Linked DNA regions of Homo sapiens. The protein of the gene in region 2 purifies or fractionates together with the protein of the main gene of each other region. This does not show direct contact. Each region holds a gene or a part of one and is shown on either strand. Other genes may lie near its edges. The genes, in order: TMEM59 and AKR1C1.

Region 1 (3,500 bases), on a different chromosome or scaffold from region 2:
TAGGAAGCAGAGGTTGCAGTGAGCCAAGATCCTGGCCACTGCACTCTAGCCTGGGTGACAGATGAGACTCTGCCTCAAAAAAAAAAAAAGTCTTCTTTCCCATATATCCCCTAGAAACTGATGTCAACAGGTCTTTTCAGTCTTAGAGAGTCAGAAAGAGACACCGTTCTCAAGCCAGTCAACATATATGTCACCACGGTAGTTAGCATCACAGAAAGCTGAGAACAACAATTCTTGTGCTGCAAACCTGTAATTTTTATGTGTGCCAACCTCTACCACATTAAAACCACCACATCTTCTCTCTTTCTATTAGTAGAAAGGCCTTGTTTTTCCAGCTAAACAAATAAGGTGTTTAAAATGATATATCACAGGGCTCAGTCTTCAAATGGTAAGAATTAAATTTACCTCAGAGGGAACATACTGCTCCACAGCTGTAGCAACAGTTGCACAACAAATCCAAAGCAATACCATCACCGAGAGGACAAGAGTTGTAGTTAAAATCCACCCAGAGTTACTGGAAAAAAAAAATCAACAATTAGTTATATTAAAATTTTATAAGAAACAGGAAATTCTTAATTAGTCAACCTTATGTACTTAGCTCAACAGTACAATTAAAACTTTGTTGGTTATCTTTGAAACTATTAAAAAACATACTTACAGAAGGAAATATTATACTAATAGCTATTACATTAGGTTGGCATAAAGTCTTTTTCCTCCACTTCTAATGTTTCTGTAACATGGCTATATCACTTTTGTAATAATAATAAAATCAGATATACTTGACTTTCTGCTAAATATATAAGGCAAGTGAAAGTGTCCTGTAAATTGTACACTGTTGTACAAATGTCATATATTATTTTGCAAGTTATTACGATACTTGCTTTAAGAAAACCAATATACCAAAAAGTTAAGGTATAGAATAGGTAAATTTAAAATGATCATTTGTTTTATAAAAGAATTCACACCAGGCTTCCAGAAGTCAGTTTCCCTAGAATACTTTACATATTCAATTTGCCATAATTTACTTATACTTCAATTTAAAAAAGCACAGCTATTATAAGGCATTCTGTAACCATTACAGCATATCTCAGTAAAGAGATAGTTATATTTTCCTTATAATTAAAATATCTTAAGACAGAAGGCCAGTTATGAGAATCAGCAATTAGAGATTTTTTATTTATTTTTATTTATTTTGAATTTTTATAGAGACAAGCTCTCACTATATTGCCCAGGCTGGCCTTGAACTCATGGGCGCAAGCCATTCTCCCACCTGGAGTTTTTTTCATAATTGACCTATTAAGATTCAAAGAATAGGAAAAAGTCAAGCCATTTTTAAATAATTAAAAGTCTAACTCTGACAAACTGTGTAATACAGATACTCCCTAATTTTCACATCTCTGCTCATCCAACACTGCCTAGTAAGAGATCTATACTTACCACCCTAATCACTCACTTGATAGTTTGCCAAGACTTGAACATGCAGTAAGCACAGTCATTGTTTGTCTGCCAGCAAAAGAGGTGGACTTTGGAGAATGTATTGTATCTAAAAGCAGGGAACTCCCATATGATTCTTTAAGTATCCAATTTAGAAAGATAATAGAGTAAAATATGTTTTTAATGAACAAATACCCACTTTCCTCTCCATGTTCCAGCCCTAAGTAACCTGAGTACTAAGGAATTTACCACAAAATGAGGATATATTTGATATCTAGATTCCAGTAGCAACTACCTAAGCCAGAAAACTGGGGCTCATCCCTTCAATCTCCACAACAAAACAATGACTAGATCCTACAGATTTTCAACTATCTCCATTATCTCCTGTTCTTATCTACTGCCCTAATCCAGACCTCATAATTTCTTCCCTGATTTACCAAAGTTCTCCAACCTGGTCCTCTAATCTATCCTTCACATAGAAGCCTCTTCTTGACACTTATGTTCCTGATTCTCTCTATTCCTGTTTTCCCAGTTCAGTCAAATTTCTGACTCTCCTTATCCTCCATATATAGTAATGTACCCTATACACATTGAGCAGGAGGCCAGTATATCTGAAAAAAAAATTTTAAGTAAATCTTCTGCTATAACTAGCAAAAATTTCTACTCATCACTTGAGATATTTCTATCTCACCTGTCAATCCTCCCCTTGAAACCTCCAGTAGACTTAAATACAGTCCTTATATGCTGTGTATGAGACATGTGTAGGACTGTGTGTGTGTATAGCAATCATTATTGTCCATGTCTGTTTAGATCTGAGAACTCCTGACATCTTTACTAGGTCTCAACTCCCTAGCACAGTGCCTGGCTCCTCAAAAAGAAATGCAAGTGAAGAAAGAGTGACCTCAATTTCCATTCTGGAGACAAGGGTGTCTCTTTAACAGCTACGACCAGATTCCAATAACTGGCTGAGTGATTCTGTATGTAATCATGGAAAAATCATGACACTTTAGGAAGTAAATAGTTACAGCAGAATAGGATGAGCAGAAGATGTACAGTTAGAAAAATTAGGTTTGAATGCTAACATAGTGACTGTATAACCTTGCGAGTAGTCAATTCACCTCTCTAAATCACCACCTACTTATCACAGGGTATTGTTCTAAAAGTCAAATGGGATCACTGAAGGGGAAAAAGCATTTAAAAAAAGAACACTTAAAAAAATAATAAAATTTGAGACAGTCTCGCTTTGTCACTCAGGCAGTGCAATGGCACGATCACAGCTCACTGCAGTCTCAACCTCCTGGGTTCAAGTGATTCTCCCACCTCAGCCTCTTGACAACTGGGACTACAGGTGTGTGCCACCATGTCCAGCTAATTTTTTTATTTTTTGTAGAGATGGATGGGGTCTCACTATGTTACCCAAGCTGATCTTGAACTTCTGGGCTCAAGTGATCCTCCCACCTTGGCCTTCCAAAGTGCTGGGATTACATGCATGAGCCACCGCACTCGGCCAAAAGAATAATTTTTATTCAAATGTAGGATCCTATTATAATTTATGTTTGGGCACAGAAACTTCTAAGAAATACATTTCTATAAATACATTATAAAGTTAGTTGCTTCACAAAATTACTTTTAAAGTGTTAGATGTAAAAAAACAACATAACATATAATGACAAAATGTTAAAGGTCAATAAATCACCAATAATATGCCAGGTAGTACAGTACTGAGAACTGTAACTTAAGATTAAATAATTATTTAGGTTTCACAGAACTATCAAACTGCAACATACATCCTAAATACTGGAAAGAAAAACTGCCCTTTTTTGGACAAGCTCAAAACCAGGTTTAGAAATGAACGAAGGATAAAATTTAAAGTTTAATCCTTGTTTTCTCACATAGTCTTTAAACATTTTGCTTAGTAAAAAGTATTAATTTGTAAGGTCCACATAATTGTAATGATATATGATAAAACCTCTCAAGAAACTGTTTCTATAAGAAATTACAGGGAGCATGTGATTTGGACTACTGCAGTTTTATACTTGAGATAGAACAGTCCACTAGAATGAACA
Region 2 (4,548 bases):
GTTATTCTTTAATACTCACAGAGCTTGCTTATATTGCTTTCTCTCTCTATGATCAACATAATAATGGAAACTGAGAATCATAACAAGTGTAAGAAACTCACCCAGGAGGTAAGAAATAATATAATATGATTAGGATTTTTTCTGATTCTATAGTCTATGTTAAACCATATTGATCTGTGCTGAGCTCAAAAAGTAAAGGCACTTTGAAGGCATGAATTGGAACACTGCAAAGATGAGAAAGCCATCTTCACTTCCTGCCTTTGATATTAGTTTTAATACATGAGTAAGTGTGAATAAATCGTAATAAATAAGCACAATTCACCCTATACTATGGATCCAGTCATAGAACTGCCACCTCCACACAATCACAATAAATACATGTGCACACAAGCTCATCATAGGCACAGTACCTTTGAAGTGTAGAATATGTCTTCTCTCTTCACACTGCCATCTGCAATCTTGCTTCGGATGGCCAGTCCAACCTGCTCCTCATTATTGTATAAATGAGCAGAATCAATATGGCGGAAGCCAGCTTCAATTGCCAATTTGGTGGCCTCTAAAGCTTTACTTTTAGGAACCTGGGGGAGTAACCATAGGTAGTATTTTCTGACTAATGTGCCTGAGAGTTAGTTCAGGCACAAGTAGCGACGTTCACAAAAATCAGCTTTTCCTCCTTTCTTGGATGAGTTCTGTATGTAGAATCATGAGCCCATCCCAGTCTCCCTGGGTCTTTCCCAGTTAGTAATAAAGGTTGGGCACAGCAGGAACTTCTGCAGTCCCAGAAAAATCACTGCTTGACCACTAGTTTGGAAGTGTCCCCAAAACAATTTCAGGTTCAGTCATTTTTTGGAAAAATTAACAGGATGCAACCTATAGTTATAGATATAATCTTAATTATTTTTAGTATGGTAAAATTAACACAAGGAATGGCCAGGCGTGGCGGCTCACACCTGTAATCCCAGCACTTTGGGAGGCCGAGCTGGGCGGATCATGAGATCAGGAGATCAAGGCCATCCTGGTTAACAACTCCATCTCTACTAAAAATAGAAAAAATTAGCCGGGCATGGTGGCAGGCGCCTGTAGTCCCAGCTACTGGGGAGGCTGGGGCAGGAGAATGACGTGAACCCAGGAGGCGGAGCTTGCAGTGAGCTGAGGTCGCACCACTGCACTCCAGCCTGGACGACAAAGCGAGACTCCATCTCAGAAAAACAAAACAAAAACCAAACAAACAAAAAAAGAAATTAACACGAGGAAATAGCCACATGGAAGGAAATATGAAGGAATACAGTGTAAGCTCCTGTGATTCCTCTCCCACCATATTGCACAGAATGCACTGACTTTACCCGGAATCATATTTTGTCAATGTATGTGAACTGTTGTCTACAAGAGATGCTCTCTACATACTCCATTACTAAGATTTTGTCTGGGACTGGTTACATTGACTCACTCTGCTTCGCAGGCACAAAACTTCCAAAAGTCTCCAAAAGGAAAGCAGGTGCACAGAAACTCCGCAGTTTGCACAAGCAGTTACTTACAGCCACCATTCTTATCAGTTAGGAAATAGTGAGAAATCCACCTTATCAGATACCAGCAGGTTTATATGGGAAACAGGCCTGTCTATGGATAGCAGTCTATTATGTCAAGTCTTTTCTACACAGCCATTAGCCATTCTGTCGGCATGACAGAACTAAATAGTAGGTGTAAAAATGTATACTCTAAGGATATTGATTTGTATAAGAAATAGACTGCAAGGAGTAAGTGATTAGCAAAATGGGGTTCAGTTCCATAAGTTCAAGGCAACTCTTTTAGGAAACATATGATTGCAGTGAAATTTACAATTATTGACTTACGTAACAAATTTGGATACAGATTTGAAAGTATATCTTTTAAATGACAAAAACAGAAACAAAGCAAACTGTTTTCCTATCTGGAAAGTATTTCAGAGGCTTTCTTTTTCCCATAGAATTACAAGGAACTAGATACTGGGTCTCACAGCCCTCTCCTCATACCATCCTTGATCATTTCTTTGCTGTATGAGTACTCAAAGGCTTACCAAAGCTGGAGCTTTAGTGGTATCCTCATCTTTACTTCCTCTCCATGTCAATTTATATTACAAAGTAAACCACTCCTGTCAATGGTCTTCAAAATGTCCCTTTGTAAATCCTTATATTGTATAGATCAGAAATGTGAAACCCAAATTTTATGTAACTAGTCCCTATTCACACACATTGTATTCCCAAGACAGTCTTGAGATACAAGTTTTCTTCCAGTGTAGAAATAGCTAAGTCTAGAAAAGAAAATCTATTCCATTAATTTTCCTGTCAGAGAAACAAGAAATTTTTCTGTTACAATATTTTGATACAAATTTGACCCATATTAACAAAGAAAAAGAATTTAAATTTTCCTTGTTAGGTTCTAGTATTTTTTTTTTCTTAAAATGAGGATATTTTATCGTTTCAGGTAATTTTCCCAGAGGTGAGAATAGTACATGAGAAATTCTCTTTAGGCCAGGTCTAGTATTACAGTGTGGTGCTCAAGGCCGCCCATCAGAACAGTGATACTCTCCCAACAGATTTCATCCACCCCGTCTCCACTAACTTTTGCCATAAAAATTCCTCTGAATTGTATCTTCTTGGAAGAAGTAAATATCTGTTCGACTATACAAAGAAACAGAGAAACCACTCCCATTGCAATCAATCTTCAAGAGAGGGAGCAGGCAAGCCGTGTTCTTTCTGCTGAGTTGTATAGACTCTGACAAGCTGTGAAATAAACATAAACAGAAGACAAAACAGTGCCACAAATAAGCAGTAGATGACCCTGTGACAAGATGGCATTGCAGAACAAAGACTGACGTTTAAAGGGGAGTCATGCAGAGTAACATAGGAACACAAGCCTGACAACCTGGTCAGCTTCCACTTACTCTAGCTCCTTTGAACTCTCAACACTAAAAATATTATTGTTACCTCTGCAGGCGCATAGGTGCCAAATCCCAGGACAGGCATGAAGTGACCATCATTCAGCTTCACACACTGATATTTCGAATCCATTTCTGTCACTAGCCTGGCTGGCAAATGTTTCTTTCTTCCTCCCTCACAGGCTATAAGAGCAATGAGCTGGCAACGCCCCTGAGCACACTGTCTGCTGGTTAACCAATGGCATGTGAGAGGAGGGACAGAGGCAGTCTTACACAAGCTGTGATAAAAATTGCATCCAGTTCAACCGTTTCTTACCTAAGAAAATTCATAAGTAAATTATTATGTGGTCATGATACACTCATTAATTTCCTCTGAAGTATTTTTGCTATTCCAGATCTCTATATATGAGACATAAATTACTCAAAGAGATTTGTAGAACAAATTGTGACTTTACATAAGAATACAGAAACCTCTAGCGGCACAGCTCTTTTTTGTTTGTGTCATGATGATGAGTTCCTTCTGCATCTTGCAGCATTTGAAATGACTAATTTTCATTTTTCTCTCTCTCACACACACAATTTAAAGGAATGACTAATGAGCATTTCTTTAAAATATTGCCCTCAATTAAAAATTAAAGTTAAAATTTTTTAATGCATTACTTTTTTCATCAGCAAATTTATTGTTCCTTTCTTATTAGCCTTGTAAGAGAAACATCCCTTCCTGATCAAGGTGCAGTCCTGATAAAGTTGTAATCCTGATGTGGGTGTAAATAAAAAAGAAAATATGATGTGGTTTTATTGGAAGATTTCTTATTAACAGCTTTTGGACTTTGGATATAATTTGTAACATGCAAACAGTGCCTTATTTGTCTTTTCCAGCCATTTTTATGAATTGCTACCAAAAAGTAACAAGCCAAAATATGATAACTATTAGATATACTTTATAATATTGCTAAACATTATTCATAAAGAAAAACTGGTAACTAATGACATATAAACTGGTGAATAATCCTCGCATGGGATAATTTTTACTTTATTCTCCCTTTGGAGGTCAGGTTAAAACATGATTGTAATTTGCATGATCCATGATTCACATCTTGGAGTAGTCACAACTTGCAGTGCCCTGATTGCTTCTATTTGCTTTTTCATAAAACAAACAGAAATTGAAAAATAGGTAAATTGTTATCATTGACATAAATGTAATATTATAAAGATATTGAAATTTTTCACAGAGTAATTTCAACAAGATGGTGGATTCTAAGATTCCCATATAACTCATGGAAACATCAGAAAATACCTAAAATTGACTGAAATAAACTTATTTATTTCTGGAGTGGCTCAGTAGAGATTCAGGGTGACTATACACATACAGATGTTATAGGCAAAAGGCCAGGGGAAGAGACATGCAATAGTCCATCTAAGCCATTGAGGAGAAACTGGGATGCGAAATTTCATAATAGTAAGCAATTCAAAAGCCATTGGTTATTTGGGGATACATAAAAGGGCAAACACAGTCCACGTAGGTGCATGTTCAGAAACAAACTAAGAAGGACTTGAGGTTTTATGTAGGGCTGATGCCTTGACTGAGAACCTGCCACACATATAAGTTAATGACTGTCATGACATAGAACAAA

The links.
Region 1: the proteins of AKR1C1 (region 2) and TMEM59 purify together in Homo sapiens (co-immunoprecipitation; one large-scale study listed by IntAct). This does not show direct contact.

What each region holds. Positions count from the first base shown.
Region 1 is NC_000001.11:54,036,205-54,039,704, forward strand, and holds part of TMEM59 (transmembrane protein 59 isoform 2 precursor), read right to left. Parts: intron 515-3,500; coding exon 406-514; intron 1-405.
Region 2 is NC_000010.11:4,961,944-4,966,491, reverse strand, and holds the start of AKR1C1 (aldo-keto reductase family 1 member C1), read right to left. Parts: upstream 3,078-4,548; 5' UTR 3,048-3,077; coding exon 2,964-3,047; intron 579-2,963; coding exon 411-578; intron 1-410. UniProt on the Homo sapiens protein: Cytosolic aldo-keto reductase that catalyzes the NADH and NADPH-dependent reduction of ketosteroids to hydroxysteroids.